Homo sapiens: one gene and its partners. The protein of the gene in region 1 purifies or fractionates together with the protein of each later gene. This does not show direct contact. Each region holds a gene or a part of one and is shown in the gene's direction. Other genes may lie near its edges. The genes, in order: POC1B, TPM2, PIP4K2C, CEP63 and EXOC7.

What was found.
Region 2: the proteins of POC1B (region 1) and TPM2 purify together in Homo sapiens (affinity purification with mass spectrometry; one large-scale study listed by BioGRID and IntAct). This does not show direct contact.
Region 3: the proteins of POC1B (region 1) and PIP4K2C purify together in Homo sapiens (affinity purification with mass spectrometry; 2 studies listed by BioGRID and IntAct, with this or other methods). This does not show direct contact.
Region 4: the proteins of POC1B (region 1) and CEP63 purify together in Homo sapiens (co-immunoprecipitation; one large-scale study listed by IntAct). This does not show direct contact.
Region 5: the proteins of POC1B (region 1) and EXOC7 purify together in Homo sapiens (affinity purification with mass spectrometry; 2 studies listed by BioGRID and IntAct, with this or other methods). This does not show direct contact.

Annotation. Positions count from the first base shown.
Region 1 is NC_000012.12:89,470,548-89,476,722, reverse strand, and holds part of POC1B (POC1 centriolar protein homolog B), read left to right. Parts: intron 1-4,447; coding exon 4,448-4,555; intron 4,556-4,993; coding exon 4,994-5,109; intron 5,110-6,175. Other genes in the region: POC1B-DUSP6 readthrough, read left to right, coding at 4,448-4,555, 4,994-5,109.
Region 2 is NC_000009.12:35,682,989-35,687,910, reverse strand, and holds part of TPM2 (tropomyosin beta chain), read left to right. Parts: intron 1-2,130; coding exon 2,131-2,264; intron 2,265-2,359; coding exon 2,360-2,477; intron 2,478-2,571; coding exon 2,572-2,642; intron 2,643-2,771; coding exon of another isoform or gene 2,772-3,103; coding exon 3,104-3,179; intron 3,180-3,360; coding exon 3,361-3,423; intron 3,424-3,595; coding exon 3,596-3,665; intron 3,666-4,669; coding exon 4,670-4,752; 3' UTR 4,753-4,922. UniProt on the Homo sapiens protein: Binds to actin filaments in muscle and non-muscle cells. Plays a central role, in association with the troponin complex, in the calcium dependent regulation of vertebrate striated muscle contraction.
Region 3 is NC_000012.12:57,588,860-57,595,513, forward strand, and holds the start of PIP4K2C (phosphatidylinositol 5-phosphate 4-kinase type-2 gamma), read left to right. Parts: upstream 1-2,332; 5' UTR 2,333-2,430; coding exon 2,431-2,604; intron 2,605-3,360; exon of another isoform or gene 3,361-3,458; intron 3,459-5,165; coding exon 5,166-5,263; intron 5,264-6,266; coding exon 6,267-6,363; intron 6,364-6,654. UniProt on the Homo sapiens protein: Phosphatidylinositol 5-phosphate 4-kinase with low enzymatic activity. May be a GTP sensor, has higher GTP-dependent kinase activity than ATP-dependent kinase activity. PIP4Ks negatively regulate insulin signaling through a catalytic-independent mechanism.
Region 4 is NC_000003.12:134,559,007-134,564,918, forward strand, and holds part of CEP63 (centrosomal protein of 63 kDa), read left to right. Parts: intron 1-143; coding exon 144-423; intron 424-2,370; coding exon 2,371-2,529; 3' UTR 2,530-5,912. UniProt on the Homo sapiens protein: Required for normal spindle assembly.
Region 5 is NC_000017.11:76,085,839-76,092,013, reverse strand, and holds part of EXOC7 (exocyst complex component 7), read left to right. Parts: intron 1-778; coding exon 779-871; intron 872-1,532; coding exon of another isoform or gene 1,533-1,685; intron 1,686-1,842; coding exon of another isoform or gene 1,843-1,970; exon of another isoform or gene 1,971-2,272; coding exon of another isoform or gene 2,273-2,339; intron 2,340-2,693; coding exon 2,694-2,839; intron 2,840-3,090; coding exon 3,091-3,243; intron 3,244-3,451; coding exon 3,452-3,550; intron 3,551-3,891; coding exon 3,892-3,954; intron 3,955-4,293; coding exon 4,294-4,360; intron 4,361-5,121; coding exon of another isoform or gene 5,122-5,160; intron 5,161-5,868; coding exon 5,869-5,934; intron 5,935-6,175. UniProt on the Homo sapiens protein: Component of the exocyst complex involved in the docking of exocytic vesicles with fusion sites on the plasma membrane.

The DNA of each region.
Region 1 (6,175 bases):
TCTATCTATCTATCTATCTATCTATTGAGACAGTCTCACTTTGTCACCCAGGCTGGAGTGCAGTGGTGCGATCTTGGCTCACTGCAGCCTCCGCCTCCCTGATTCTCTTGCCTTAGCCTCCCAAGTAGCTGGGATTACAGGCATGCACCACCAGGCCCAGCTAATTTTTGCATTTTTAGCAGAGATGGGGATTCACCATATTGCCTAGGCTTGTCTCAAACTGATGGCCTCAATGATCTGCCTGCCTCAGCCTCCCAGAGTGCTGGGATTACAGGCATGAGCCACCACACGTGGCCTTATGAAAGCACTTTAAGACTTTTCATGGTTCATGGACGTTTTTGGTTCTGTAATGAACAAGTAACTATGACTATGAATATAGACATAAAATTTTTACATACAATTACAGGAACTCTGTAGATTCCAAGTTAAAAAGACTCCTGTTATATAATTTGGGCTATTTTCAAGGACATGTGAATCAGTTTTACTAGAAATAAGTTCAAGAATTTCCTCATTCTGGGCTGGGCACAGTGGATCATGCCTGTAATTCTAGCACTTTGGGAGGTGAAGGCAGGAGGATTGCTTGAGCCCAGGGGTTCAAGACCAGCCTGGGCAACATGGCGAAACCCTGTCTCTACAAAAATTACAAAACTTCGCCGTGCAAGGTGGCACAAGCCTGTAATCCCAGTTATTTGGGAGGCTAAGGTGGGATGATCACCTGAGCCCTGGAGGTCGAGGCTGAAATAAGCCGAGATTGCACCACTGCTTTCCAGCCTGGGTGACCCTGTCTCAAAAAAAAAAAAAAAAAAAAAAAAGAATTCCCTCATTCTTTTGAGTGAATACCAGTAAAGTTTAAGGAATTCAGTAGTAGTTCAGCTAACTTCTCATATGCCTCTTAAACTCTCGAATGTCCATGTTTGCTGATCCAGTAGTCACTATTGACTAATGTAATATTCATCTTGGTGACACACTTTGTAGACGTTTTTAAAGGCAGTTGGGTGGTACTAAATTAAGAGAGTCAGAAATCTATTAATGTCTTAGTAGAAATTTTATATCCTCTTTAAATTCTTAAAAGTCTAGTTAGATGTTATTTGAGCCCTGACGATAAAGGACTAACCTTTCCTAATCAAAGTCAAGGCAAAGAGAAGCCTGTTTTATTGGTGCTAACCTATTTTTGATGTATCTAATTAAAAATAAAAGGGAGGAGGAGGAAATAGAAATCATCATTCTCACTTTCAGCCACCTCAAATGCAAAAAAACACATACAGAGAGCATATGCAGGATTATAATGCAGTGACCAGAGCAGGGGGAAGGCCTTAACCTCAGTCCCCTTTAGTTTCTGTTAAGTTGATGGTAGAAACCTCGCCTCCTTCTGGCACCAGGTTCTTCCCAGCCACTGCCTGTACTTTAACTCATTCGAGGTTCACATCCCTTCATTTATTTTGCTCTGGGAAATTTCTCCCAGCTATGGGCCCTCCTGCTCAGGAGGCACTTTTAGCTGACCAAGATAACACTTTTCCTCATTTGCAAGTTTCTTTAAAATCCTGTTTCCTCTATGGAGCTTCTGGTAACAAATTGGCACCTGTTTTGTTAACAACCCTTTTTCCTATCACTTTCTAAAATTATGTTTTTTGTGTGCCCTCCCTTCTCCCTAGAACAAAAGCCTCATAAGGGCAGGGATCTTGCCAGTCTCATTCACAGCTATATTCCTACTACCCACAGCAGTGCCCAGTGCCAGGTACTGACAAGTGCTCAGGGAATCTTTGAATGAATCAGTGGGTGAAAATTTTTCCCACAAACTCCACAAGGACAGGGACCATGTCTGTTTTACCTACAGCTTATGGCAACACACACAGATGTTTATTCAAGGATGGTGTATAGCCTCCTAACAGCACTGCCTCGTGGTTCCTCTCCACTTTAGAACCTTCTGTTGTTTACACAGAAGCCACACAGAACTTCCAGTGCTCTAAGTAATTTGGGCCAGTAGAAGACACTTTCCTTTTTGTCAGACTTAAGCAGAGTGGTTCAGAGATTTGGCTGTGGAAACAACTGCCTGATTCAAATCCAGACCCCTCTCCCCACTGACCTGATAACACTGGCAGTTACTTATCCTTTATGTGCCTCTGTTTCTTCACTGTAAATTGAGACAAGCAGTAGCACCTGTTTTACTGGGTTATGCTGAAAATTAAATGAGTTGCTACATGTAATGTGTTAATAACCGTTCTAGGACACATGTGCTCAAGGAATGTGGGTAGGATAATGATGTGATGGTGGTGGTAGTATTTGGTTGATGTCATAGGGTAAGTACTTCTATATTTTGTTATTATCTAAGCATTTCATTTTATTAAATATTTTTCTCCATAATTGCTTTCTTGAAATGTAAGAGTTAAGTCCTCTCATAGAAATATTTTGGTCACTTAACATAGTCACATTAAGTAATATTTTTTAAAAAGAAGCTTAGTAAGTAAGACAATTTGATCCCTTGCATTAGTTTTTTACAGGTTTTTTTTTTTTCCTTTTGAGACAGAGTCTTACTCTGTAACCCAGGCTAGAGTGCAGTGGTGCAATCTCGGCTCACTGCAACCTCTGCCTCCCGGGTTCGAGCAATTCTCCTGCCTCAGCTTCCTAAGTAGCTGGGATTACAGGCACCTGCCACCATGCCCCACTAATTTTTGTATTTTTTAGTAGACATGGGGTTTCACCATGTTGTCCAGGCTGGTCTCAAACTCCTGACCTCAGGTGATCCGCCTGCCTCGGCCTCCCAAACTGCTGGGATTACAGGCATGAGCCACCGCGCCTGGCCAGTTTTTTATAATTATTATGCCAAGTTTATCCGTGGGGATACTGAGTAGGTTTTTTTCCCCAGGTTCTATATATAATAAGCTTCCTCTGTTTGGAGCCTTTTTATAATACTGCCCTTCAGATTTGAATCTTTCTCACATTTTCTGAAAGAAAATATTAATAAATTTTTACTTACTGTAAAATCAGGGTAAACTACCCAGCATGGAAAATTTTTCCTTGAAAGGTTATTTTCTTGACTTTTTTTTTTTTTTTTTTTTCTTTTCTGAGGCGAGTCTTGCTCTGTCGCCCAAGCTGGAGTGCAGTGGCACAATCGCAGCTTACTGCAACCTCTGCCTCCTGGGTTCAGGTGGTTTTCCTGCCTCAGCCTCCTGAGTAGCTGGGATTACAGGCACCTGCCACTATGCCTGGCTATTTTAGTGGAGGCAGGGTTTCACCCTGTTGGCCAGGCTGGTCTCGAACTCCTGACCTCAGGTGATCCGCCTGCCTCAGCCTCCCAAAGTGCTGGGATTACGGGCATGAGCCACTGCACCCAGACTTCTTGATTTTTAAATATTATTTCACATGGAACTTCTTTGTGCCTTTTTTCTGTGTGAATCTGTGAACGCCAGATGCAAAGTTTCTGTCACAAAGAATTAATTTTAGGTCAGCCTTAAGAATGGGAGTAGGGAGAGAACAAAAAGAAAAATCTTCAATTATATTCCACACCCTTAATTGATGACTCATAGTAATCTTTACTGTGGGCATAGAGGGAAACTACAAATAAAATTGAAATATAGTCTGTGACCCAAATCTGTCTTTTTTGGTTTTTGTTACTGTGAAAATATTAATAATAAAAATACTATTCATAGTTTTCTAATAGTCTAAAATTTGTTTTTATTTTCTCTGTGGTCTTCTGCTTTTCTGTTTATATTTAAAAGGCATTGTGGCCAAACAATAAAAAAAGAACCTTGGGAAGGATATTAAAGGAATAGACAGCATAAAACAGCAGACAAGATGTCTGAGATTTTTCTCATTTGCTTTTTAATGGGGCGTGTGGATGATAGATTTCTCCATGAAGGAACTTCTGTTCTGTTCTGTATAAATGAATTGTCCTATTTTCAGTCCATTGGAGCTCTCTGGCCTCCCCAAGTCCAGGAAGTTACAGGCATGGGCAGTTAGGTTCTTTTGTTGGTGATGTCACTTAATTTTAATTCTCAACACACCATTCCTTTTCTTACAAAAAGTTTCACTGCAAGCTTGGTCGGATGAGTAATAAAGGCTCTCTCTTGAATCATATGGATAATGCTGGCAAGTGACAGAAATAGAAGAGAGTTCTTTTAAAAATACAAGGCACTTGGCTTAGAGTGAGTACAGAATTGAATCAAAACCCCAAAGCAGATGCAATAAAACCAAAATTATTTTAATAAAAGAATAAAAGGAAAAAAGCAACTTGGTTAGTCTACATAGCATATTTTGACCTTTTAATGGTCTGTCAGTGTTGTTTGTCATGATGAAGATCTTGGCTGCAGAATATGACTTTACTGCATGGGATGGTAACAGTGGTCTCTGGTATTTAATATTTACAGCCTGGTTTATTTGTGGTGTAGAGGTGAGGTGGTGACTCTCCAGAGCCTTTCACATAAAACATCTTCTTTCTTCTTCTTTCTAGATTTTCACCCGATGGAAGACTAATTGTGTCATGTAGTGAGGATAAAACTATTAAAATTTGGGATACCACAAATAAGCAATGTGTTAATAACTTCTCAGATTCCGTTGGGTAAGTACACTTTCTTTGTGCATTTATGTGGGTTAGTTTTCTAAGGAGACGTTTGATTATAACAATTTAAATAAATAAATGAGTAAAGAAATTGAAATATGGCCGGGTGCAGTGGCTCACGCCTGTAATGCCAGCACTTCGGGAGGCTGAGGCAGGCGGATCACCTGAGGTCAGGAGTTTGAGACCAGCCTGACCAACATAGTGAAACCCTGTCTCCACTAAAAATACAAAAATTACCTGGGCATGGTGATATGTGCCTGTAATTCCAGCTACTCGGGAGGCTGAGGTGGAAGAATCACTTGAACCCAGGAGGCGGAGGTTGCGGTGAGCTGACATTGCGCCACTGCACTCCAGCCTGGGTGACAAGAGTGAGATTCCGTCTCAAAAAAAAAAAAAAAAGAAATTGAAATATTAGGTCATCTTATTCTTTCCTCCTAGATTTGCAAATTTTGTGGACTTTAACCCTAGTGGTACATGCATAGCTTCAGCAGGTTCTGATCAAACTGTGAAAGTCTGGGATGTAAGAGTGAACAAATTACTACAGCATTACCAAGGTAACAATTTTCCTAACAAAAAATTCAGTTACCGAATGGACTCCTTTTGGAAGGACTGATTCTCCTTGTTGGTGTGGTTTGGCTGTCTTACTTGGGGTCATGGGCTGCCTTGGAACAGGCTAGAGAATAGTATAATTAGCTCCCATCAACAGCAGGGTCTCAGAAGCTCAAGGACAGCAGGAAGTGAAGAGACCTTAAAAATGATGTGAGGGCTGGTTTAAAGAAAAAAAAAGAAGTTGCTATGAGATTTTCAAATTCTGGTTATCAGCATTGTGTGAGAAGTCAGGATAGAAATGACTGAATTCTGAATCACAGGGAGTTACGTGAGCACAAATAGGTGTTATAACTGGTAGAAAACAACTACCTACTATGCCTATGTATTGATATTGAACTAAAAGAGAAGTGAATTTTCTTGGTTTATATTGGATTTATATTAAATCGAAATGATTATTAAACATAGTAGCTTTTCCAGTGTTTACTATGTAGCAGACACTGTGCCAAATCTAAACAATATTCCTAGGAGGTATCATTATTACTCACATTTTTAAGATAAGGAAATTGAGATTTAAATAGGGTAATTAACTTGCTCAAAGAATCAATAGAACTACTTAGGTCTTCCTGCTTACACAGTGCATAGAAAAATTAACTTTTGATCATTGTGTTATACTGCCTCCTGTTGGAAGGATACTGTCTGGAGACAAAGTCTCAAGCATGATGGCAGGACTGTGCCCGTTTCAAACTGTCTCCACACTTTTCTCCCTTTAATCCCAAGCCACTAATTAGTTATTACCTTTAATTTGAGACTAGGTTATATACCCTATCTGAGCTGGTGATGATTAACTGTCAGTTTTATTGGCAATATATCCAAAGAATTTATAGTAATGTGGTCAATAAGATTACCTTTCCGTGACACAGTCTCATTTTTAAAGTTATTCTGGCTCTCTAACTGGAAGCTTAGAGCTATGTGATGCCAAAATACTCGTTTTAGTGAGCCATATAGAGTTTTGTTGTTGTGGAAACAGTGCTCTTGTTTACAACCTATTGCTAATAAGGCACTGGGGTATCT
Region 2 (4,922 bases), on another chromosome or scaffold:
AATGGGGACAGTAGTGCCTGTCCTGTGGTTAGAGAGCCGCCCCCGTAACTGGGAAGAGCTTGAGAGGCAGGAAATGGCACATATCAGTCCCATGATGAGGACCCCAGGACTTCCCAAACTTTCCAGAGTCTTTTGTCACCCCACCATCATGCAGAGTTTTTCTTTTACAGTCTCACCTCTCTCTAGGGTAGTACTCCAATGTCCCCCACAGTGATTCTTCCCAACCCCCAATGCTGTCCCCAGAATGCTTCCACACTGTCATCCGGCCCTGTGCCCATGATGGGCTCTTGTCACTCTAGGTGGCCAAGCTCCAGGTGCCTTCAGCACCTGGAAGACAAGCTACCATCTACTCTCTATATATGGTGCTGTTTCTCCTGCCCTACAGTCCGACCAAGGACCTGCTTCCTATGCTGTGTCCAAGTGCTGCCCCCAGCCCCTCCCCCCACCTCCTTTCCCTACACAGGTCCTCTCTCCTTTCCACTCTGAAATCTCAGGGTCTCTGTGTCCTTGTTTTTGACAGAGAAAGGGGATAACCTAATATTTATGGAATGTGGACCCTGTGCAGGCAATGTACTCAGTGCTTTCTGCATGTTATTTTACAATTTCCCAAACTTGGCTTATCATCAGAATCACTCGGGGGCTTTAAAAAAAAAAGAGAAGATTCCCAAGCCCCCGCCCTACACATCCCAATTCAGTGGATCTAGCATGGAGTAAGAGAACCTGTTTAGTTTTATGAGTCTCACCGAAGGTCCTGTTGATTAACTGAGTATTAAAAGCAGTGGATTATCTCAGAACAGCCTTAAGAAGGAGGAACTGTTATTGTTAACTCCAACTTGTGAAGGAGGAAACTGAAGCTTAGAGAGGCTAAATAAGTTGCCCACAGTTACACAGGTGTTGAGTGGCTGAGCCGTGGCTCAAAGACAATCTGACTCAGAGCCGATGCTCTTAACACGTGGCTGCCCTGCTCCTCTCATTTTCCTTTACTGGCGCTCGCCTTGCTCTGCCCTTTTTCTCAGTGTTTGACCAGTTTTTATGGATTTTTTCCAAAACCTCCATGGTTTTGCCTCCTACTGCAAGCCCAGGGGCTGAGTAGACATCCCTCACACTGCCCCTGCATTGCCCCCAGCTCTCTGCTGGCCTTGGCAGGGAGCCCCTTGCTACAGCCATGGGTATTCCTTATAGGCCTGCCTCTTGGGCTTCTTGCTGGGAGTCTGCCTTACAGCTGATGACAGATGACATCACTGAACTTGATACTTTTTTTTTTTTTTTTTTTTGAGATGGGATCTTGCTATGTTTCCCAGGCAGGGCTCCTGGGGTCAAGCTGAACTCCCGCCTTAGCCTTCGGAGTAGCTGGGATGACAGGCATGCACCACCATGCCCAGTATCACTGAGCTTGATTCTGTGACGGGCTATTCTTAGCAGCAGTGATGTCTGGTTGGCCTGATTCTCCTCCCATCCCCTTACCTGGGCCAGGCTTTGCTGTGTAGGAATCAGAGCTGCATCAGACCTGGCCCCAGCACTTGAAGTGCTCCCACAGGGAACAGGAGGACTTGTGTGCAGGTGACCTTTGGGAGACTAACTGTGCACAGTGCAGGAGAGGCCCTGCAGCAGGGGAGCGGAGCTTGTCAAGCAAGGAATGCATGTATTTTTTTGTTTTTTTGAGATGGAGTTTCGTTCTTTTTACCCAGGCTGGAGTGCAGTGGCACGACCTCAGCTCACTGCAACCTCCGCCTCCTGGGTTCAAGTGATTCTTGTGCCTCAGCCTCCCAAGTAGCTGGGATTACAGGCATGCGCCACCATGCCTGGCTAATTTTTTATTTTTAATAGAGACAGAGTTTCACCATGTTGGCCAGGCTGCTCTCAAACTCCTCACCTCAGGTGATCCACCCGCCTCGGCCTCCCAGAGTGCGGGGATTACAGGCGTGAGCCACCATGCCCGGCCTGAATGCACATTTTTTACTGGAGCACAGTCTGGGCAGAAGATGATTGGTTGGGGAAAAATCACATAGAATGTCTAGAAACCAGGAAGCCTCAGTTCTTTCTGAGAAGAATCTCGCCATCCTCTGGAGCCTCTCTGATCCTTATCCAAGGCTAACAAGGCCTTTTTGACCCCTGACCTCTGACCCACAGGCTGAGGCAGATGTGGCCTCCCTGAACCGCCGCATTCAGCTGGTTGAGGAGGAGCTGGACCGGGCCCAGGAGCGCCTGGCTACAGCCCTGCAGAAGCTGGAGGAGGCCGAGAAGGCGGCTGATGAGAGCGAGAGGTGGTCAGGGGCCTCGGGGAGGATGGTCCGGGAGGGAGAAGGGAGCCTGTCTCTGCTGGTCCTGACCCTACGCTCACCCTCTCCCTGCCTTTCAGAGGAATGAAGGTCATCGAAAACCGGGCCATGAAGGATGAGGAGAAGATGGAACTGCAGGAGATGCAGCTGAAGGAGGCCAAGCACATCGCTGAGGATTCAGACCGCAAATATGAAGAGGTGACAGCCTTGCCCCTCTGCCTGCTCGCTGCCCAGCCTGCAACATGCCCAGTCCTTCTCCACTGATCTACCCTCTCTTTCTCACTCCCCACAGGTGGCCAGGAAGCTGGTGATCCTGGAAGGAGAGCTGGAGCGCTCGGAGGAGAGGGCTGAGGTGGCCGAGAGGTAAAGATACCCGGGGGTGACAAGTGAGCCCATTGGCCCTGGGGCCTTCCACACAGTGGGAAGGTAGCATCCTAGGCTTGGGGCTGTAGGGACAGGCCCTGTTCTCTGACCCCTGCCCGCTGCCCCCAGCCGAGCCAGACAGCTGGAGGAGGAACTTCGAACCATGGACCAGGCCCTCAAGTCCCTGATGGCCTCAGAGGAGGAGGTAGTGACCCCTCTGAACCTTTCTGGGCAATGGCGCCTTCTCTCAGCTCACCTTCCCTCCGTCTCAGCACCGCAGGCTGCTCTTTCTCAGCTGCTGGGGATCAGGAAGGGCCTGGGGCTTCTGAGCCCTGCCTGCTGTCACTCTCACAACTTTGCTCTTCTCTTCTCTCCTCCACCCGTCCCCTGCTGTGCCATCTCCACTGTCTGGCTTCGCTGTGCCCTCACACCCTGCCCCCCCCGCCACACACCCCCTGCAGTAAATGTGGGGACCTAGAGGAGGAGCTGAAAATTGTTACCAACAACTTGAAATCCCTGGAGGCCCAGGCGGACAAGGTAGAGGGGAGCAGAGGGGCAGTGAGGATGGGGTCCCACAGGGGAGGGAGGTGAGGGGCCCAAGGCAGGGAGGGGCTGGGTGTTCAACGGAGGCAAGATGACCAGGAGCCTACGGGGTACAATGGAGAAATGAAGGATCTGTGGTAGCGCTGTACTGATGGCGTGTGTGTGTCCCCAAAAGTATTCCACCAAAGAAGATAAATATGAAGAGGAGATCAAACTGTTGGAGGAGAAGCTGAAGGAGGTGAGAGTCCTCTTCCAGTTCCCAGTCTCCCCTCAAGCCACCCTAATCCTTGCCAGAGACGGCCTGTGGCAGGACACTTGAGGGTTGGGATGGACAAGAAGCTTGACTTAGGCAGTAGTCTGTGGGAGGGCCTAATTCTTTGCCATTTCTCCCATCCTGCCTTTACCCCCAGGCTGAGACCCGAGCAGAGTTTGCCGAGAGGTCTGTGGCAAAGTTGGAGAAAACCATCGATGACCTAGAAGGTAAAAGAAGCCTTTATAAGTAGGTCCACACCTGCCGTGATTATCAGTCTGTCCTGTACCTTCTCATCCCATTTTATTTGCCACCAATAAACTAGGGTTGGGCCACCTAGGACCCTACCAACTCCCCAACTCTGTGGGCCATGTCTACAATTCAAGTAATTGTAGCTGCCCACGGCGCAACAACTCCAGTGCTTCTCAAACTTCAGCATGCATGAGAATCACTGGGAGAGTTTTAAAAACAGATTCCTTGACTCTGCCCCAAAGAGATTGCTGACTTTGGGCTGGAGGATTTACATTTCTAGCTAGTTCTCTGGTACTGCCAATGCTGCTGGTCCTCATGCCACACTCTGAGTGGCACCCTTATAGACAATTCCGTCCCCGAGTGTAACGCAGTAGAGTTCTAGTGCAGAGACTGGCTTATTAACTAGAGAGCTGTTGGACTGAACATCTAGGTCTGCATGACAGCACTAATAGAAAACACTATTTTAAGCTAGATTTGACAAAAGCAAACATCCAGATATTTGTGAGTCTGTGGCTATTTCTATTGTTAATGATGATGTGGCTAAAGTTGCCTTTCCTTTTTATTCTGTGATAACCCTTTCACTTTCCCACTTCTCTCGCTTCCAGCCTTCTCAGGCAAGCTCCAATTTTACCTCCAGCTTTAGGAGGTTTGCCCTTTCTGGCTCCAGCACCCTCCCTCTCCCCTCTAAGCAAGCACTCCTGCTTGTCGAGAGCATTGTACACACAGCTCCCTGGAGAGGCAGGAGCTGCCATGGGTAGAGCCAATTTGGGGTACAGAGAAGGACAGAAAAGAGATGGGGTAGAGATGGGGAGAAGGAGTTCCTGACAGCTGTCCAGCCTGTTCCCTGGCCTCCCTCTCTCACTCTGTCTTTGTGTACCTCTGATTCTGTTTTTCTTTCCATTGCTCTCTCTCCTTCCTTTCCTCTTTCCCTCCACTCCCTTTCCCACACTCCCACCTGGTCCCCTCCCTGGACCCCCCCCAGATGAAGTCTATGCCCAGAAGATGAAGTACAAGGCCATTAGCGAGGAACTGGACAACGCACTCAATGACATCACCTCCCTCTGAGCCCCACGCCAGCGTGGCCACCTCAGCTCTCTTCTCTCCTCTCCTTTCCATTCTCTCTATGGGGAGGGGAGCAGGCAGGAGGAGCAGAAATTGCCAACATTGCACAGCCAGGCTGGGAGCAGCCTAGGGAGAGCCCCCATCATGCCCACCACCCACTCTGGCACTGGCTT
Region 3 (6,654 bases), about 32 Mb from region 1:
GCTGGTCTCGAACTCCTTGTAGGGTCCAGACCTACTGGGCTTAGCGGGTGTTCTCCCTGTGTGCGGAGACGAGAGATTGTAAGAAATAAAGACACAAGACAAAGAGATAAAGAGAAAACAGCTAGGCCTGGGGACCACTGCCACCAAGACGCGGAGACCGATAGTGGCCCCTAATGGCTAGGCGCACTGGTATTTATTGAATACAAGACAAGGGGCAGGGTAAGGAGGGGTGAGTTGTCCAAGTGATTGATAAGGTCAAGCAAATCACGTGATCATGGGATAGGGGTCCCTTCCCTTTTAGGTAGCCAAAGCAGAGAGGGAAGGCAGCATACGTCAGCATTTTCTTCTATGCACTTATAAGAAAGATCAAAGACTAAGATTTTCACTATTTCTTCTACCGCTATCTACTAAGAACTTCAAAGAGGAACCAGGAGTACAGGAGGAACATGAAAGTGGACAAGGAGCGTGACCACTGAAGCACAGCACCAAAGGGAGGGGTTTAGGCCTCTGGATGACTGCAGGCAGGCCTAGATAATATCCAGCCTCCCACAAGAAGCTGGTGGAGCAGAGTGTTCCCTGACTCCTCCACGGAAAGGGAGACTCCCTTTCGCGGTCCGCTAAGCAACAGGTGCCTTCCCAGGCACTGGTGTTACCGCTTGACCAGGGAGCCCTCAAATGGCCCTTATGCGGGCGTGACAGAGGGCTCACTTCTTGCCTTCTAGGTCACTTCTCACAATGTCCCTTCAGCACCTGACCCTATACCTGCCGGTTATTCCTAGGTTATATTAGTAATGCCACAAAGAGTAATATTAAAAGCTAATGATTTATAATGTTTATACTGATGATTGATAATTGTCCATGATCATCTCTATATCTAATTTGTATTGTAACTACTCTTTATTCTAACTATTTTCTTTATTATACTGCAACAGTTTGTGCCTTCAGTCTCTTGCCTTGGCACCTGGGTAATCCTTTGCCCACAACTCCTGACCTCAGGTGATCCTCCCGACTCGGCCCCGCAAAGTGCTGGGATTATAGGCGTGAGCTACCGCATCTGGCTTTTTTTTTTTTTTTTTTTTTTTGAGACAGAGTCTTGCTCTGTCGCCCAGGCTGGAGTGCAATGGCATGATCTGGGCTCACTGCAACCTCTGCCTCCTGGGTTCAAGCGATTCTCCTGCCTCAGCCTCTCAAGTAGCTGGGACTACAGGCACCTGCCAACATGCCCGGCTTTTTTTTTTTTTTTTTTGAGATGGAGTCTCACTCTGTCACCCAGGCTGGAGTGCAGTGGCGTGATCTCTGCTTGGCGTGATCTCTGCTTGGCGTGATCTCGGCTCACTGCTACCTCCGCCTCCTGGGTTCAAGTGATTCTCCTGCCTCAGCCTCCTGAGTAGCTGGGATTACAGGCTCACGCCACCACGCCCGGCTAATGCCCGGCTAATTTTTGTATTTTTGTAGAGACGAGGTTTCACCATGTTGGCCAGGCTGGTCTTGAACTCCCAACCTCAGGTGATCCTCCCGCCTCGGCCTCCCAAAGTGCTGGGATTACAGGCGTGAGTCACCGCGCCCGGCTTCGTTCTTTCTTGTCTCCATGTCTTTGTATGCTGTTCTCTTTGTCTAGACAGCCTTTTAACCTCTATTCCTGAACTCCACCCACCCTTCCAAACTCAGTAAAGTCTCTATCCTCTTTGAAGCCTTCCCTGACCAGCTACACTTCCTTTCTTTGTATCATTGTCTTTGCTTCATACACAGTTCTAGGATAGCTCATACTTTGCATACTGCAAACTTGATCTCCATTGGCCAGCCAGTGCCATTAGACTCCCAACTACTTCGGGGCAGTCACTGTCCTATACCCTGCTTCAATAAAAGGAAAATCAGCCCCTAGAACAGGACCTAGTACAACTAAGTGCACAATAAATACTTGTTAAATGAATGAATGAATTTCAAGACGCTTGAGACCACTGGTAAGAATTTTGGGTTTCCAAAACCCTCCCCTTCCCAACCCCCATTCGGTAAGAATGCTTTCGCATTAGCATCAGGTCCGAGGTTACTCATTAGAAACTGGGCAAAGCCGGAAGGCGGCCACTTTGCAGCAAAGAAGCCCTAGACCTTGGGAGTCAATCAGGCCAGCCCAGGCCGCACCACGGTCTCCTAGTTGACAGTTCGAGGGGCCTCGCGGGCCGCTTGCTTCGTCAGCTTACAGGGATCCCGCACGCCAGGTGAGCCCACACACTGAGCGGACATTGGGGCAGGCAGGCAGGCGCCGGGGGGCGGGGCCAGCGTCGCCCCGCCCCGTCCTGCCTCGCCCTGTTCGCGCGTCCGCTGTCCGGCCTCCGGTCACGTGACAGCAGCGCAGGTGAGCGCCGCTTCCGGGGTCGGGCGCCTGGATAGCTGCCGGCTCCGGCTTCCACTTGGTCGGTTGCGCGGGAGACTATGGCGTCCTCCTCGGTCCCACCAGCCACGGTATCGGCGGCGACAGCAGGCCCCGGCCCAGGTTTCGGCTTCGCCTCCAAGACCAAGAAGAAGCATTTCGTGCAGCAGAAGGTGAAGGTGTTCCGGGCGGCCGACCCGCTGGTGGGTGTGTTCCTGTGGGGCGTAGCCCACTCGGTGAGAACCAGCCCTAGACCCCCGCAGCCCTGTCCAAACCCCTCGGCTCCGAGGCGTCCCTGTTTCCAGGCTCCAGCCTCCGGAGCCCCACGCAGTGCCACTCCCCTCCCCCGGGTTGTCTTGGTCCCTGCCCACCAACCCCAGGTGTTCCCCCAGCAGGTTTTCTGACTGTGGACTTTTTTCTCCCCAACAGTTCTTTACTGCTCCACTCTAGTTCCACCTTCCCCCCGTGAAATCCAGCTCCCTGTGCTTTGACTCCTTCCTGCCATGTCTAGCTTCAGCCTCAGGCTACGCGGACTGGCCAGGACCGGGCGCAAGCGGGGAGGACATTAGGGGGAGTGGCTTTTTCTCGGGTGGTTGTTGGTGAGAGTGTAGGTGGAGGGTGAGGGGCCGAGGGGAGTAGATGGATGAAAAGGTTCTTTCACTTTGCTTTCCACCTTGCTTCCCAGCCCCGGTCCTTGGCTTTTGAATCTTGGTTTTGTCTCGGGGAAGCTCCAGGTTTCCTGGGCTTTCTAATCCTGCTTGTCCCTTCCTTTCCCTTCCAGAGGTACAGCATTTTAGAGAAGCTACCCCACCCTGAGCTAGAAGTTGCACACTCTCAGGACTTATGTATATATGCCTTTGGTCTTAACTGCATCCTTATCGCTGGCTAGAGCGATCGTGTTTGGTGTAGGTGGTGGCGATTGTTGACCAAAGAGAAGGCTGAGGGGCTCTGTTCCTGAGGTCACTATGGTGGTGAACTTTTGAAGCAGGAAACTGCTCTGGGAGTCAGGAGGAGGCCAAGGAGACCTCCATCCCCTTTCCTGAGGATACCTCAGCTGAAAGAAGCACAGCCATTGCCCATCTTCCGTCAGGTCTGGAGTGGGAGAAATGCAGTTATCTTGAATGTGACACGGAATATTTTCGAAATCAGCGTTCTTGAATATAGTCATGGCTAGGCTGTGGAGATGGAAGTTGTGAGGAAGAATACGCGTTTTGTCACATTTTTAATTTGTGGTAAAGAATTTCTTAACCAAAAATTAAGAATGTTGTTTGTGGCCAGTCGGATCTCTTTTGGATTTGTGGCTCTCTGGGTGGTAAGCTCTTAGTGAGTATTCAGTGGAAGGCACTTGGTATGGGGAAGGCTGATGGAGGTAGGGCTGCCTCTCATATGTACCTTCCAGGTGATTCATCCATTCCCTGTGGGATGCTTAACAGGGAGGGTTTTCCCTTGTTAAGGATTGGGGGAGTTACATGTAAGACCTACCTCAGCTTCACTAGGTATATATACTTTAGCCCCAGCACCCCACCCTCTGCCAACACACATCTACTTCAAGTGTTTGGAATGGAGAAATTCCTTGAACATATGTCTTAGTGATGATTCAGCTTGCTTAGCAGGTGGGGAGGAGGGGGCAGGAGGAGCTATAGCTGAATTTTAGGCTGGGAGTCTCAAGTGGCTTTTTTTTTTTTTTTAATCTGGAGGGATATGTTCTGTCCTCCTTTTCTACTGAGAACGGGAGGAGTTGGTTGCACTGCAGTGTGTGTGATTTAGGTTAGACTGCAGTTCATAGCCTCTGTGGAATGATCTAGTAAGGATAGGCAAGGCATTCATTTATTCAATTAATAGACATGTCAGGATCACTGTGTGCCAAACATTGTGCTAGTTAGACACCTGAAAGATGCAGACGACTAGAATGAGCCCTTGTTCTTGAAGAGCTCACAATCTAGATGGGAGAACTTACATAAACTAGTGATTAGAGTCATGCAGTAACAAAGGCAGGTGAAAGGTACTGTAGCAACACCAAGGAGAAAGCACGGCTCAGGATTTTTAAGTACTAGAGCTCCCTTTCTACCCTGAATTAGCAGACTGCAGATCCTGGGGGCCGAGGAGAGCATGTGATGCTTGTGTCCTTTGGGCTGTGGATTAGTTTGGCTTTAGGGAACAGACGCCTAATGAGCTCATATCCTCTGATTGCCTGCATTCGCTCTGAAATCAGCTGCTCTTCCTTTACCTTACACCTTAGACAGGTGGGGGCCTACTGCAAACAACTGGGTCAGAGTGGTCTAGGAAGACTGGTCCTGTTTGCAAAGAGATGCCTTTTGCAGGATATGGACATTTATCCTTTTTGCTGTGGTTGGCCCCACAGAATCCCATTAACACTCTTGTGCATTTTTAAAATGCCTTTTTTTTTCTTTTTCTAATGGAACATGTAGCTGCCTTGAGCTTGCAGAGTTTTTTTTTTTTTTTTTTTTTTTTTTTTTTTTCTAGAATTTCTCACAGCTTTAAAAATAGTCCTGAGTTGCTTACAGGGTTAGCCTAATATAAAATGACTGTTGTGAGCATGAAGTTCCATGGGGGTGGGCGTGTTGGGGGCTGTGTGTGAGGGTTGCTTACTGTAGTCCTTCTTGGGCAGCAGAAGGGTTAGACACATTCTCTCACTTCTGTCAAGCATATGCATAGCCAGTGTTTTTAAAGGAATGAGGTCTGAGTGGCCCTTGCATGACTGCTGCCCAGACACAGTGTATGGGTAGCTCTCCACACCCTTCTTCATGGCTTCCCTATTCATGGTTTGGCTTATCAGATCAATGAGCTCAGCCAGGTGCCTCCCCCGGTGATGCTGCTGCCAGATGACTTTAAGGCCAGCTCCAAGATCAAGGTCAACAATCACCTTTTCCACAGGTAAGTGATGATCCTTGCCATTCTCATGTCAACCTTCCCAGAAAGGAGTAATAAATAATTTTAAAAGTTTCAGTGAGTTGAAAATTTAACATCCTTCCCAAATGCAGAAATTAGTTTTGTGCAAGGAAACCATGAGAATAATTTCTGGTGTTCCCTATATCCTTATATGAATCAGTGTTATCTCTCCTCTAGCCTGGCAATTCCATAGAGTAAATATGTACAGATACCATTACCTGCTCTTTCTCTCTTTTTCTGCTTGTGACCTTGGAGATGCCATGAGAACCATTAGCTTCTGACAGGGACTCCTTGAAAGAAAAACTTGAATTCTCTACTAAGCCCTCCTAGGAAAAGAAGATGCCATTCAAAACAGTGGTGTCTGTTGCTGACTTTAGAATGCTTCTGACTTGCTTGAGATTTGGGAAATGCTGCTGTTTGGATGGGTAGTAGATCCTGGCTCTACTATACCACTTACCAACCATGTTACTTAGGCAGGTCACTGAATCACTCTGAGACAGTCTCCTCTTCTATAAAATGGAAATAATATGTTTTTATAGGACCTCACAAGGGCCAGGCGTGGTGGCTCATGCCTGTAATCCCAGCAGTTTGGGAGGCCAAGGCGGGTGGATCACTTGAGGTCAGGAGTTCGAGACCAGCCTGCAAACATGGCAAAACCCTATCTCTACTAAAAATACAAAAAATTAGCCAGGCATGGTGGCGCATGCCTGTAGTCCCAGCTACTTGGGAGGCTGAGGCAGGAGAATTGCTTGAACCCGGGGGATGGAGGTTGTGGTGAGCCGAGATTGCACCACTGCAGTCCAACCTGGCAACAGAGTGAGACTCTGTCTCAAAAAATAATAATAACAAATAAAAATTAAAAAAAAAGGACCTCACAGGGTTTTATGAGAATCAAATGAGGTAATATGTCTGAAGGTACTTTATAAACTACCAAGTGTATGTAAATGTAATATTGTTTGTTTTCTTACTTTGAAAACCTGAATTTCAGGGAAAATCTGCCCAGTCATTTCAAGTTCAAGGAGTATTGTCCCCAGGTCTTCAGGAACCTCCGTGATCGATTTGGCATTGATGACCAAGATTACTTGGTGAGAGTCCATTAAGGGGTGAGGGTAGCCCTTTCTCCCCAGCAACTGAGGAGTACTATTTGGGACAGCCATATTTGGAGAAATGAGAGTCTTGGCAAATATAATTCTTTACCTTTTTGTGATTGCAGCATTTTCAAAAATTTAATGAAAATTATAAACCTTGTCCTTGGGGGAAAAGATGTAGATACATTAAGAATTTTGGCCAGGCGCTGTGGCTCACGCCTGTAATCCCAACACTTTGGGAGGCCGAGGCGGGCAGATCACCTGAGGTCAGGAGTTCGAGACCATCCT
Region 4 (5,912 bases), on another chromosome or scaffold:
CTCTTTCTGATCTGAGTAGGTTGCTCATTTTGTAAATTGTAGCCTTATTAGTTAGGCTATTAAGCAAATTTCCTACATTTCTGTTGGAAAGAGAAAAGTTGCTACAATTTTTTATTTGTTTTGTTTTCTAATCTACCATCCAGGCCAACCCATGGCCAGCACAGACATGATGGAATAAAGACTGAGCACTACAAAACAGATCTTCATTCTCCAAGAGGACAAGCGTCGGATAGTATAAACCCCATGTCTAGGGTGCTAAGCCCCCTGAGTCCTCAAATCAGCCCTTGCAGCTCCACCAGGTCTTTGACTTCCTACTCTCTATGTAAAACTCATTCTTTGCCTTCAGCGCTAGATACAAATGAAGCCAATTTTTCTGACACTATGTCTGAGAGTATGAATGACCAAGAAGAGTTTATATCTTCGGTATGGAAACTTTCTGATCTTAGTAATTTGTTAGTTTTTTAAGTTTGCTTTGATTTTTTATTTTAAGGGTGAAGAAGGTGATTTTTTTTTCCTTACTGATTCTTTTATCATAAGTACTCTTCATTATTCTTAGGTATCCCTGTCATACAGTTTTTGCTTGTGAAGACACTTTCGGCCAAGACTACTTTTCAAAATGTTCTGAAATATGTTATACGTATTCATTTGTCTTTAACCCTTATTGGAAATTCCCTTCTTGCCCTTTTCAGTGATGCTCAATTTTCTTCTGGAATGGTTAGTTCAAGAACTGTCTCTGGATGCCAAGATAGTCCTGAGGCACAGGCAGTGAAGGAGGAAAAGAGGAACTGCTGGAAAGGAGAAAGGGAGTGTGGAGGGGGAGGAAGGCTGTGCCTCTGATGTGTGCAGAGCATGGCTTGGGGGTCACAGATGGTGGCCCTCAGGGCAGAATGTGCCTTGGACACCATGCCGGTCCCTTGCTCCTTCCATTGCTGGGCAGGCTGCACCATCTTTTTGCCTTCTGCACCAAAGCACTTGCCATGGGCCCTTCATTTCCTGTCACCAGCTGTGGCCATATAGATGTGAAAGTGCAGTATTTCTGACTTATTAATGTGCTACCAAGTCCATGGAAAGGTTTTCTTTTATTTTTCAAAATAAGTCCTCACTTCACTTTCTTCCTAAGTTTAGCAGCAAAATTTTTTTGGCACCAGAACTTTCCCTGGCCTGAACTGATGTGTTAGTATGTATAGACTTTCTCTATTCCACTTAGTGTGAGTATCCATGTGTTTTGCTTCAGAAATATCAGTGTGTTTGGTGATGGGATGTTCCCTCAGACTCCACTGGGGTAATACAGTTGATCCTCATTATTCACAGATTTTGTATTTGTGAATTTGTCTACTCCCTAAACTTTATCTGTAACTCCCAAATCAGTATGCGCAGCACTTCCACAGTAATTCGTGGACATATGCAGAGTGACAAAAAATTTGAGTGACCGACTTGCACAATCCCAGCCAAGGTCGAAGTAGGCAGCACTCTGCCTTGTTGCCCCTGCTTATGCGGAGGTGACCATAGGGTGGAGATGGACGGGACAGCGCAGTGTAGGGAAAGAAGCTCAGCTCCATGCCAGCTGGATAGAGTCTGAATCCCAGCTTCAGCACCAGTTAGTGGGGCAGCCTCAGGAGAGTTACCACTTCTGAACCTCATGTCTCTCATGTGAAATAAAAAATACAGAATCTACCAGAATGATTTGTTCTAGGATTTAGGATTATGCTCTCTGTGTGGGGTATGTGTGTATGTGTGTGTGTGTGTATTTGTTGTATGTGTGTATTTTCCCTGGGCCAAAAATTCTGTGTTTGCTAATTCAGTGTTTTGGGTGACTTTATAGAACACAACTACTGCTATTGTGAATGAGTATTGACTGCATATGGCATATGTTCTATGTTACCTTTCTAAAATCAGAATTCTGAAATATCACTAGCCTCAAGGGTTTCAGATAAGGGACTGTGGACTGAAAATTTGGAGGAGAAAAAATAATTGATTTTAGCTGGCATCTAATTTATTTTTGTTAAATTTTTGTGCTTTAAAATAAAAGTGACATACTTAGGTTTTTAAAGTGAGTTTGAAATAATAGGCATTAACTATGGAAGCATATATAAGTCTAAATTGAAACATTCTTCAGACCAATAACTAATATATGATACTTTACATTGTTACAATTTGGGTCAGAAACGGAGAGATCTGTGTTAATTTTTGCAGAACTTACTGATTTTTGTTCTTTTATTGCTCTTGTCATTAGGATGAAAACCAAAAAAGTATCTTCAGAGGAAAAAAATCACCTTTTAATATTGCTAGTTAGAAAATGTCATGAACAGTGTATCTTAGAAATATAATATTCTACTTATTTACACATGTCAAAATTTGTGTCTCTTCCAGTGTTCCTTGCCTGTATCTCCCCTTGGTTCAATAGCTACCAGATTTTTGGAAGAGGAGGAACTGAGGTCTCATCACATTCTAGAGCGCTTGGATGCCCATATTGAAGAACTAAAAAGAGAGAGTGAAAAGACAGTGAGACAATTCACAGCCTTAAAGTAGCCTCTTAAAAAAATCACTATCTTGGAAATAAAAATAAACACCAAAGAGTTACTGTCATCTGAAGTAGCAGCTCTTTAAAAACATGAAGAGATAAAATTATAAAAATGATACATCTAAAGCAGTGGTGAAGAAAGCTGAAAAACTGATACTTTTGATAGGCATTTTCTCTGCACTGGTTTGTTTAAAGGACTTCTTCCAGCAATAAGTTGAAAGAATAAACCACTTTGCTAGACTTTTTTCTCATACGAATATTTATTATCATAAAGTGATACTTACCTTGCTGACTTAAATGTGAATAGCTATGTACTAATTGAAATAAGGATTTTATGATACATGTTGAAAATAAAGTAACTGCAGGAACTTTCTTTAGGGGAAATGTGTAGAAGCATGGATTTAGGGGTCAAACATACCTGGATCGATAGACTGGTTTTGCCACTTACCAGCCAACGGGGCTTGTTATTTACTGGGCTGGTAGCCCCTCCTAGCCAAGGGGCTGGTAGTGTGTAAAGTCAGGCTGGTAGTGAATAAGGGGGGGGTGTGCTAAAGAACCTTATCAAGCAGTCCTCTCTTGCTCAACACTCATGCAGAGGAGAGAGGCAGGGAGGGCAAGGGACTGGCTGTCATGCACGGTGCCCATGGAATATCCATTGGAAATAAATGTTCATCGTCTGCACTGCTGAGGACAAGTTTAGATGGGAGACAAAGATCTGGATGTTGATGTGCCGCAGGCATTTGAAACGATGGGAGTTGATAAGATCCACCAGGGAGGCTGTGGAGAGAGAGAGGAGCAGGAGGCTGGGTTTGGGGCCCTGAAAGATGCCAGCATCTGAGGATCACAGGAAATAGATCTAGCAAAGGAACTAGAATGTGCAGTTACAGATGAGAAAGGTCAGTGTAGTGTACTTGCCAGCTCAAGGGTGTGGCCTCTGTGAACCCTCTTTCTGTAGTGGATCTTTCCCATCAGCGTAAAACATCCTGTTATTTCCCCTTTTTAAATAAAACCTCAGTTTTTTTTAATGCCTCTCTTTTACTGCTCTGTATGTTTGCTTCCCTTCACCCAAACACTTCTGGAAAGAGTTGTCTGCAGTGACTCTTTCCAGTTCCTCACCCCGCCCCACCGTAGTTCTCTTCCTAACCCTCTCCAACACCACTTCCATCCCCAGACTGCTTTCTTGCTCTTGAGTTCACCAGTGACCTAATCAGTGTCTGAGCATCATTCAGCACAGTTGGACTCTCTCTTGGCTTCTGTGACCTGGAACTTCTGGTTTCCTCTCTACCTCATCCTCCACTCCATCTCATGGCTTTTCCTCTTCTAACCTCTAAGTCAGAGGGCCCCCTAGAGCTCTGTCATGGGTTTTCTCCCTCAGCATTCTCTTCCCTAGAAGTTTCCATTCCATTCTCAAGCTCTTAATACCACCTATAGGCCAGTGACCCTTACATTTATTACTAATCTTGACCTCTCCCCAGAGCTGCTGTCTTAGATACCTAGCTGCTTATGCGATGTCTTCACTTGGATATCTGACAAACATCTTGTTTCCAAGAGAGAACTCTTTATTCTCCCTCTTGCTAAGATTCCATATCAGGACATAGCATTATGTTTGCCAGTTCCTAGGAGTTACTTATAATTCCTTCCTTACCCACATCCGCATATCCAGTCATTTGGGAGGTCCTGTCATTTCTTCCCCCAGAATCTTATCTCAGACCCAACCGTTTCCCTCCTGCACTTCTACCACCTGATCCAGACTACTTCTCTCTCACCCTGATTCTGGCAGTAGCCTCCTAACTGATAGTACTCACACCAGTAATTCAGGGAGCTTCTGGAGTTATCCTTTAGAAATGTAAATGAAACAGTGTCACCACTGCTTCCCTTCAGACTCTTCCAAGGCTTCTCTTTTTTTTTTTATTGAGACAGAGTCTCACTCTGTCGCCCAAGCTGCAGTACAGTGGCAGGATCTCGGCTCTCTGCAACCTCCACCTCCCGGGCTCAAGTGATTCTCCTGCCTTAGCTTCCCGAGTAGCTGGGATTACAGGCGCATGCCACCAGGCCCAGCTAATTTTTGTATTTTTAGTAGGAACAGGGTTTCACCATGTTGGTCAGGCTGATCTCGAACTCCTGACCTCAAGTGATCCACCCGCCTGAGCTTCCCAAAGTGCTGGGTTATAAGCGTGAGCCACTGCACCCAGCCCCAAGGCTTCTTACTGCACTCAGAATAAAATCCAAATGAATTAGTATAGCCTACAGAGTGTCAATAATCTGGGCCTAATCACCCATTGCATCATCCTTTACTGTGCTCCACCCATGCTGGCGTCCTTTCTGTTTATTGAGTGCAGCAAGCTTTAACCTGTTCGGGTCTTTCATTTGCAGTTTACCCTGAATATTCCCTTTCTCTTACCTCACCTTTGATTGGCGTTTTCCCCCTTGCAGACCTGCACTCTGGCATCCTCTCCTGAGCAAGCCTTCTTTGATTGCTGCCTCCCAAACCTGTTTCTCCCCATTTCTCTAGCTCATTGGCCTGTGTTACTTGCTTCATAGTGCTCACTACTATCTGAAATCATTTCATTACTTGATTTATGTTTGTACTGTCTATTTCTGTCTTTAGAATTAAAACTCCTTGAGGGCAAGGACTTTGCTTCTCTGGTTCATGGTGGGATCCTCATCACCCAGCACAAGCCCAACACTTAGGAGAGGCTCAGCTAGTTTGAACCAATGGAAAATGCCATTCCTGAGGTGCACCACATCGTTTCTTTTGTGTTGGTGTGCATGCTGTCCTTCAGTTTGTCTCCTCTTCCCACACCCTGTCATGTGCTCCTAAAACTCCCCCTTTACTTGGCTACTTTATCTGGCTTGGCAAAGCTTTCCCATATCCCCTGACCCATGTCAGGGAACGTTTCTCCTCATTGCTGTCATGGCACCCTGTGTGTGGCTCTGACCAGACTTTGCTATCCGCTTTGATTTCTGTCTTTCAGGGGCTAAGTCCTGCCTACATCCTCAGTCAGCATGCTGCCTAACACATAACAGATCCTAAGCAAATATTGGGTGGATGAAAATCACTACCATTCAAGGCTTCATTGTATTTATCAGTAAAACTGAAATAATATCTAATGGGGTCGAGAAGATTTACTGAAAATATATATTTGAAAGGGCTTTGCAGTTTTAAGTACTGTACCTATGTGCATTGCTGTTACATTCAGGAGATTTCTGAGTTTTAGACAGTCCCAAGCTTCAGCTTAAAATCTGTAGACTGCAGCCCGTTTCTGAAACGTTTGTACTACGTGTTGACTAGGAGGAACAATGACAGACTCTGTAGTCACCGGAAATACTTAAGGAATCATGAGGTACTATGTATTTCCTTAAATTATACTGTTTTTTAAAGCTGAAGTAT
Region 5 (6,175 bases), on another chromosome or scaffold:
GGCGGCTGTGGGTGCTGCCATTTTGTTCTCATTGTTTTCACTTGTGATACTAACTATTGTTTTTCTCCCCCATGCCAAGAGCATGTGCCCTCTCCTTCCGTGCACACCCTCCAGGCGCTCTGTGTGGTGGCTTCTGTTAACCCCTTCTTGACTTTTGGATTTTTTCTTGTCGCTTTGGTGGTTTGGGGAACTCTGGTGTGGGGCTAGGCTGCCTCTGGGTCTCTGAGCCGTCCGCCTTGGGCACAGCGCTCCCCCGGAAGTTCAGTCAGGGTGGCTTCCTGCTGGCTGCTGTTTGGCGTACGTCCCAACACTGAGCATGCTCGGAGAACTCTGCCTGGAGTTTGGGGCTGGGCTGGGGGCCTGCTGGCTTCAGGGTGCCCCCCAGGCTCTCCCACCCTGGTTGTGCCCTCTGGGTATGCGAGCTTTGTCACGGGCTCCTCCGACCTGAGCCCTCGCCTGTTCTGATTATGATGCCACTCCATATTTTTGACTTCTCCTGGTGGATCTTGGTCCATCTTCATTACCCTCTGTCCTTTCAGAAATGAGCTGAAATCCAGAACAAGGAGGGTCGGTAGTAGAATCAAGGCTCCATTTGGAGAAGGAAATGACTCCTTTCCTTCATCCTTGTCCCCAGCGTCTCTGGTGGTCTCAGGGAAAGGCCTGCTCACTGTTGGGGAGCTGGGTGCGGGGCCTGGGGGGCAGGTGGAGGGCCGCTGCTGTTTTCTCTCACTCATTTCCTAGGTCTTCTTATCTCCTCTCTGTGTGGCTCTGGTGACAGGGACGATCCGTAAGGCTCAGAACCTTCTGAAACAGTATTCCCAGCATGGTCTAGATGGGAAAAAGGGGGGCTCTAACCTCATTCCTCTGGAAGGTAATCACCCTGTGTTCCCCTCCTGTCCCTTCCTCCTCCACTGTGTGTCCACGCACTTGGCAGGGCAGAGCCTCCCCCAGGAGGGCCTCGGGAGAAACCCTGAGGGGAGCAGGGTGGGAACGGCAGGTCCCCGATGCCACTCGGGCTTCAGCGGGCACAGGGACAGTTTCGCAGCCCTCGGCCTGGTCCTCTCTGGCTGATGGCAGCTCTGCCCTCCCTGAGGCTTCCCTCCTCCCTTCCCTGTCTCTGTCCTTGTCTCCTGTGTGAACTCAGAAAAAGTTATTTGTCTTGGGGCAGCCCTTTCACGCTCAGACCAGCAGTGGCAGGCCCCAGCTGGCCGAGGCCTCCCGGCCTTCCCATCTTTAGAAAGGGGAGTGTGTGCAGCAGAGGACAGGCAAACTGGGGCTTTCCCCAAATACAGCGAGGTGGGGAACCCCCCTGGGGCCAAGCATCAGCTCTTCAGCCCCTCCTTGGTCCTTCTCCGCTTTCCCTGGGCCTCCAGGCTCGGGGAAATGAGCAGCTAAGGACGGTCCTGGGTGCTCACTGAAGTCAGGCTTGAAACGGCTGTTCCCAAGGTGGCTTGAGGTAGAGGAGGGGCTCAGGGCCCTCTCCGATGCCCCCTTCCCCATCCCCATCTGACGTCCCCCTCCTGGAGATGAAGGGCTTCTTCCCTGTACCCCAAGGGGCGGCCTGCCTGGCCCCTGGATAAACGCTGCTTGTGTTTGTGCGGCCGACATCTCGCCAGGTCACGAGCATGATTTCCGAGTTAAGCACCTGTCCGAGGCCTTGAACGACAAGCACGGGCCGCTGGCCGGTGAGTACCGCAGCCCAGCCCGAGGGCAGCCGCTGACACTGCCTTCGCAGCGGTCCCCGGATGGCCTGCTCCTGCCTGGCCCAGCTGGGCCCACTCTGCTCTGAGGATGGGCCAGGCCTATGCGCCTCTCTCTCCACTCTCTCTCTTTTGGGCCTAGGTCTCCTTGCCTCTCTCCAGATGGGAGTGCGTGCCTGTCTGTCAGGCCTGGGCCAAGGGGAGAAGCCGCTGCTCCTCGGAAAGCAGGCAGAGAGGGAAGGTGGCTCCCTTGAGGGCAGGGAGCCCTGACGTCCGCCTCCTGCAACAATTCAGAGCTCTGATCCCCTCGGAGCCCATCCCTTGGCACATAGGACCAGGCAGTTCTGCCGCCGGTTTTGCCTGCAGGCGCCCCCGCCGTGGCCTCCAGTAATAGGGTCTGGCCTCCTCCTGGGGCAGCTGGCAACCCCTCCTCTCTGGGACTTACCAGCCTCTTAGATTTTGACCCCATGCCAGCCAGCCTCAGAAGCTGCAGCCAACCACCCTCTTAGATGTTCCAGAAGCCCTGACTGGGCTGGTCACTTCCTTCACAGGCCCCGCATTTGCCCACATGGATGACCCCAGTGCCAGCCTCCTTGAGGTGGCACAGCCACCTGCCCACCCTGGGCTGCCCTCTTTCAGGTACAACTCAGAATGCTCAGTCCTGGGGTCAAACCACCTTATCCAGGACGCTGATTCAGGAATCTTCCCTCCTTATCTTTCCATCCGTCACTCTCCTGCCTCTGGTGTCTGATCCCACTGTCTGCGCAGAGCCGAGAATGAAGCCAGAACAAAGGCTGGGCTCAGCTCCTTTTATTCCCCTCGAACCTGGCGGGGCCTGCTGGCTCCCTTGCAGCTTTCTGCCAGAACAGTCAGCCTCTTCCCCATCCTCTGCCAGTGTGGGGTACAGGCCAGGAGCTGGGGGACCCACGCCGCCCCCAGCCAGGAGTGTGGCTGGCCCCAGACCAGCAGCTCAAGAGTTGTGCCATCCCCCAGGGAGAGATGACATGCTGGACGTGGAGACCGATGCCTACATCCACTGCGTCAGTGCCTTCGTCAAGCTGGCGCAGAGCGAGTACCAGCTGCTGGCCGACATCATCCCCGAGCACCACCAGAAGAAGACCTTCGACTCCCTGATACAGGTCCCGCCCCGCCCCGGGGGCTCTGCAGCCAGCCCCAGCAAGAGCTGTCACAACAGACTCTTGCAGCCCTCAACTCCACCCACCACCACCACCTCGTGCCCTGGGGACCGGTCCTGGGTGGACGCTCACCACCTCCCCGTCACCCCTCTTCCTGCACACTGGCCCCCCTACATACTGCAAGGATCCCCCACTAGCCCAGAACTAGCTCCCACCGCCCCACCCTTCCCTGAACTGTCTCCCTGCCCCCTCAGGATGCCCTGGATGGGCTGATGCTTGAAGGGGAGAACATCGTGTCTGCTGCCCGGAAGGCCATTGTGCGACACGACTTCTCCACGGTGCTCACCGTCTTCCCCATCCTGCGACACCTCAAGCAGACCAAGCCTGAGTTTGACCAGGTGCTCCAGGTATGTGGGCGAGGGGCCCTCAAAAACACAGCCAGGAGGCATCGTGCTGCCGGGTGTGGCCGCCCCATCCCTCCCTGGGAGAACCCCATTCTCTGTCCCACACTTCTGCTCTGAAGGTGCATGGAAGCAGCTTAGGAAGGGCCCTGGGTGAGTGAGATGCTCACAGAGCGACTGGAGGTGAGCTGGGGGCTCCCCTGTGCTTCCTCAGGGCACGGCTGCCAGCACAAAGAACAAGCTGCCTGGCCTCATCACATCCATGGAGACCATCGGTGCCAAAGCGCTGGAGGACTTCGCAGACAACATCAAGGTCCCTGCTGTCCTCCCCTTTCTCCCTCCCTCCCGGCCCAGCACCACAGTGACCTGGCCCTGGGGGACTCTCAGAGCAGGCCTCCAAGAGGGTGCGTTGTCCCGGGGCAGCCAGCTGCGCCACTGGCCTGTCAGCACCCATGTGCCTTCCTTTCCTTCCTGGGGCCTCCAAGCCCTCTGAAGTGGGAAGGGCCTCTCCCCCTTGGTCCAGCCTGGCTCAGCCTTTGTGCCTGAGAGGTGTCCTAGCACCCGTCTGCCAGGAGGCGGCACCATGAGCAGGTGCACTGGGGCATGGGGTGGGCTGGGGGCTGCTTCAGGGAACCAGAGGCTGTTTTTCCACAGAATGACCCGGACAAGGAGTACAACATGCCGAAGGACGGCACCGTACACGAGCTCACCAGCAATGTGGGTGCTGCCTGAGGACACCAGGGAGAGGGGAGGAAGGAGGGCCCAGGCCCAGGCCCAGGGCCAGGCAGAGTACTGGTGGAAGGGACTCAGCCTGGCCCAGAGCCGCTCGCACCTTTGTGAGCAGTCCTGGGTGGCAGGATGGACAGTGACATGTTTAGTGTCTCTAGCAGACAGGGCCTTTCCTGGCAGGCTAGAGTGAAAATGAAGTTTCCAGCCGCGCTCTTCACTGGGCGGATCCCAGCCCTGGGCTGGCCCTGGGCACTCAGAGGGGTCGCTGTGGGAGGCCGTCGGCCGGGCCTGCCACTTGCCCTTCTGCACCGTTTTCTTCCCACCCAGGCCATCCTCTTCCTGCAGCAGCTTTTGGACTTCCAGGAGACGGCAGGCGCCATGCTGGCCTCCCAAGGTACTGGTACCTCCCAGTTGGGCCCCCTGCCCCACTCGCCTCCTTGCCTGGAGACATGGGGTTAGAGGGCAGGTAGCAGTGAGGAGGTATCTCCAGTCTGTGGAGGGGTTGAGGTGTGCTCAGCAGAGGGTCCCTGGGGCTGAGCATCAGGAGAGCAAGGTTTGCCTGCACCTTTCAAGACCAGACACTGGACCTCTGGCCCCTCCCTCAGCCCCTTTGACCGTCCTCGCCCTGGAAGCAGTGTCCTCACTCTGGGAGCGGTGCTGGTTGGTTGGAAGGTGTCCTTTCTGCCCCTGCCCCCCTCCCAAATCCTTCTCTCGTGTCTGCCTGCTCTCCTAATCAGGCTCGCTCAGCTGGCCTTCAGAGGGTAGCAAGTGTCTCAGGGCCCGCTGGGCGTCTTCCTGCTGGCCCTGCCCTGGGACTGGAGCTCAGGGGGTTGGCCTGTAAGCAAGAGCACCTTTCTGGGTCATTCCAAGCACTGAGGTCCCTGGGCCCTCTCCTCCCGTCCCATTTTGGGGGCAAGGAGCCTGTGGGCAGCCTCCAGCCTGCAGTTCTCAGCTCTCTACTTTCCAGGGTGTTCCCTGGTCCTCAGAGGGTCCCGCCTGCTGTGTCTTGCTATCTGTGTTTTGGCTGTCGTGGGGAGAGGTCTGCTTAATTCGGGTTGACATGCCGTTTCTAACCTGTTTTTTGCACTTTGCATCTTTCTCCCTCCTTTGTCTCTCCCTCTGTCCCCTCTGTGTGCACTGCCTTTCACTCCGTAGTTCTTGGGGACACATACAATATTCCTTTAGACCCCCGAGGTAAGCAGTGCGGTTCTGCAGCCCCCTCCTGTCCCTCTGAAGCTTGGTGGGTGAGGTTCCCTGGGGACTGACTCTCAGTACCTACTGGGGAGCCTGAGTCAGAGGGGACATGAGTTTTCTCGGGGTGCTCTCAACTCTCTCTGCTCCCTTCAAGGCCACTCTGTCTCTGAGCTTATCCGCAGCACCTGCCCAGGCTAGAGCCCTGGATACACCCCCTAGGCTCGCCCGGCCTCCCTGCCTTGCTGTCCCCACTCGGCCTTCCCCACTGTGCAGGCCGCAGCTTCGTCTGTTCAGTAGGGTCTGGTAGAGGGGATGTTCGAATGTAGGGGAGAAGGTGGAGAGGCTGTGGGGAGCCCATTCTAAGACTCTGCTGTTGACAAAAGGAAAAAGGGGGCCTTGTAGAAACCACCCAGGGTGGGTGGGGGCAGGAGGGGACAGGGCGCTGGCATCTCACTCTTTTCCTGCCAGCTTTTCTGCTGACATGGGCCAGCTCCATCCCATCATAGAGGGCAGCTCTGGGTTCCAAAAACTCCAGGGCTGGTGCTTCCTGCGGCAGGGGCCACCCTGTGGCTTAGCAGGCAGCCAGCTCTGCCCAAGGAAGCCCAGGGCCTGTCTCAGTGTCCCCTCAGACTGCTGCATGGCCTGGGGGAAGGGCCGTTGAGGGTCTTGGCTGCTGCCACTGCAATAACAGGACTTCTCCTCTCACAGAGACCAGCTCTTCGGCCACCAGCTACAGCTCTGAGTTCAGCAAGCGGCTGCTAAGCACCTATATCTGTGAGTGTTCTCCCGGGCAGACCAGCAGCCCTGCTGCCTGCATGCCCTGCCTTTCCCTTCCTTCTGTCTGTGCTCTCTGGCTATTCCCAGGGCCCTCTCCTAAGTGCCATCTGATCTTTGGAACCACAACCTGACCTCTAGTTCAGAGGCTGAGGGGAGTTGGGCTAAGGCCTCCTGAGGCAGGACGAGGAGCGATGGATAGGAGCGCGTTCGCGGGTCCTGGGGTGGGGTCGTTTGGGTC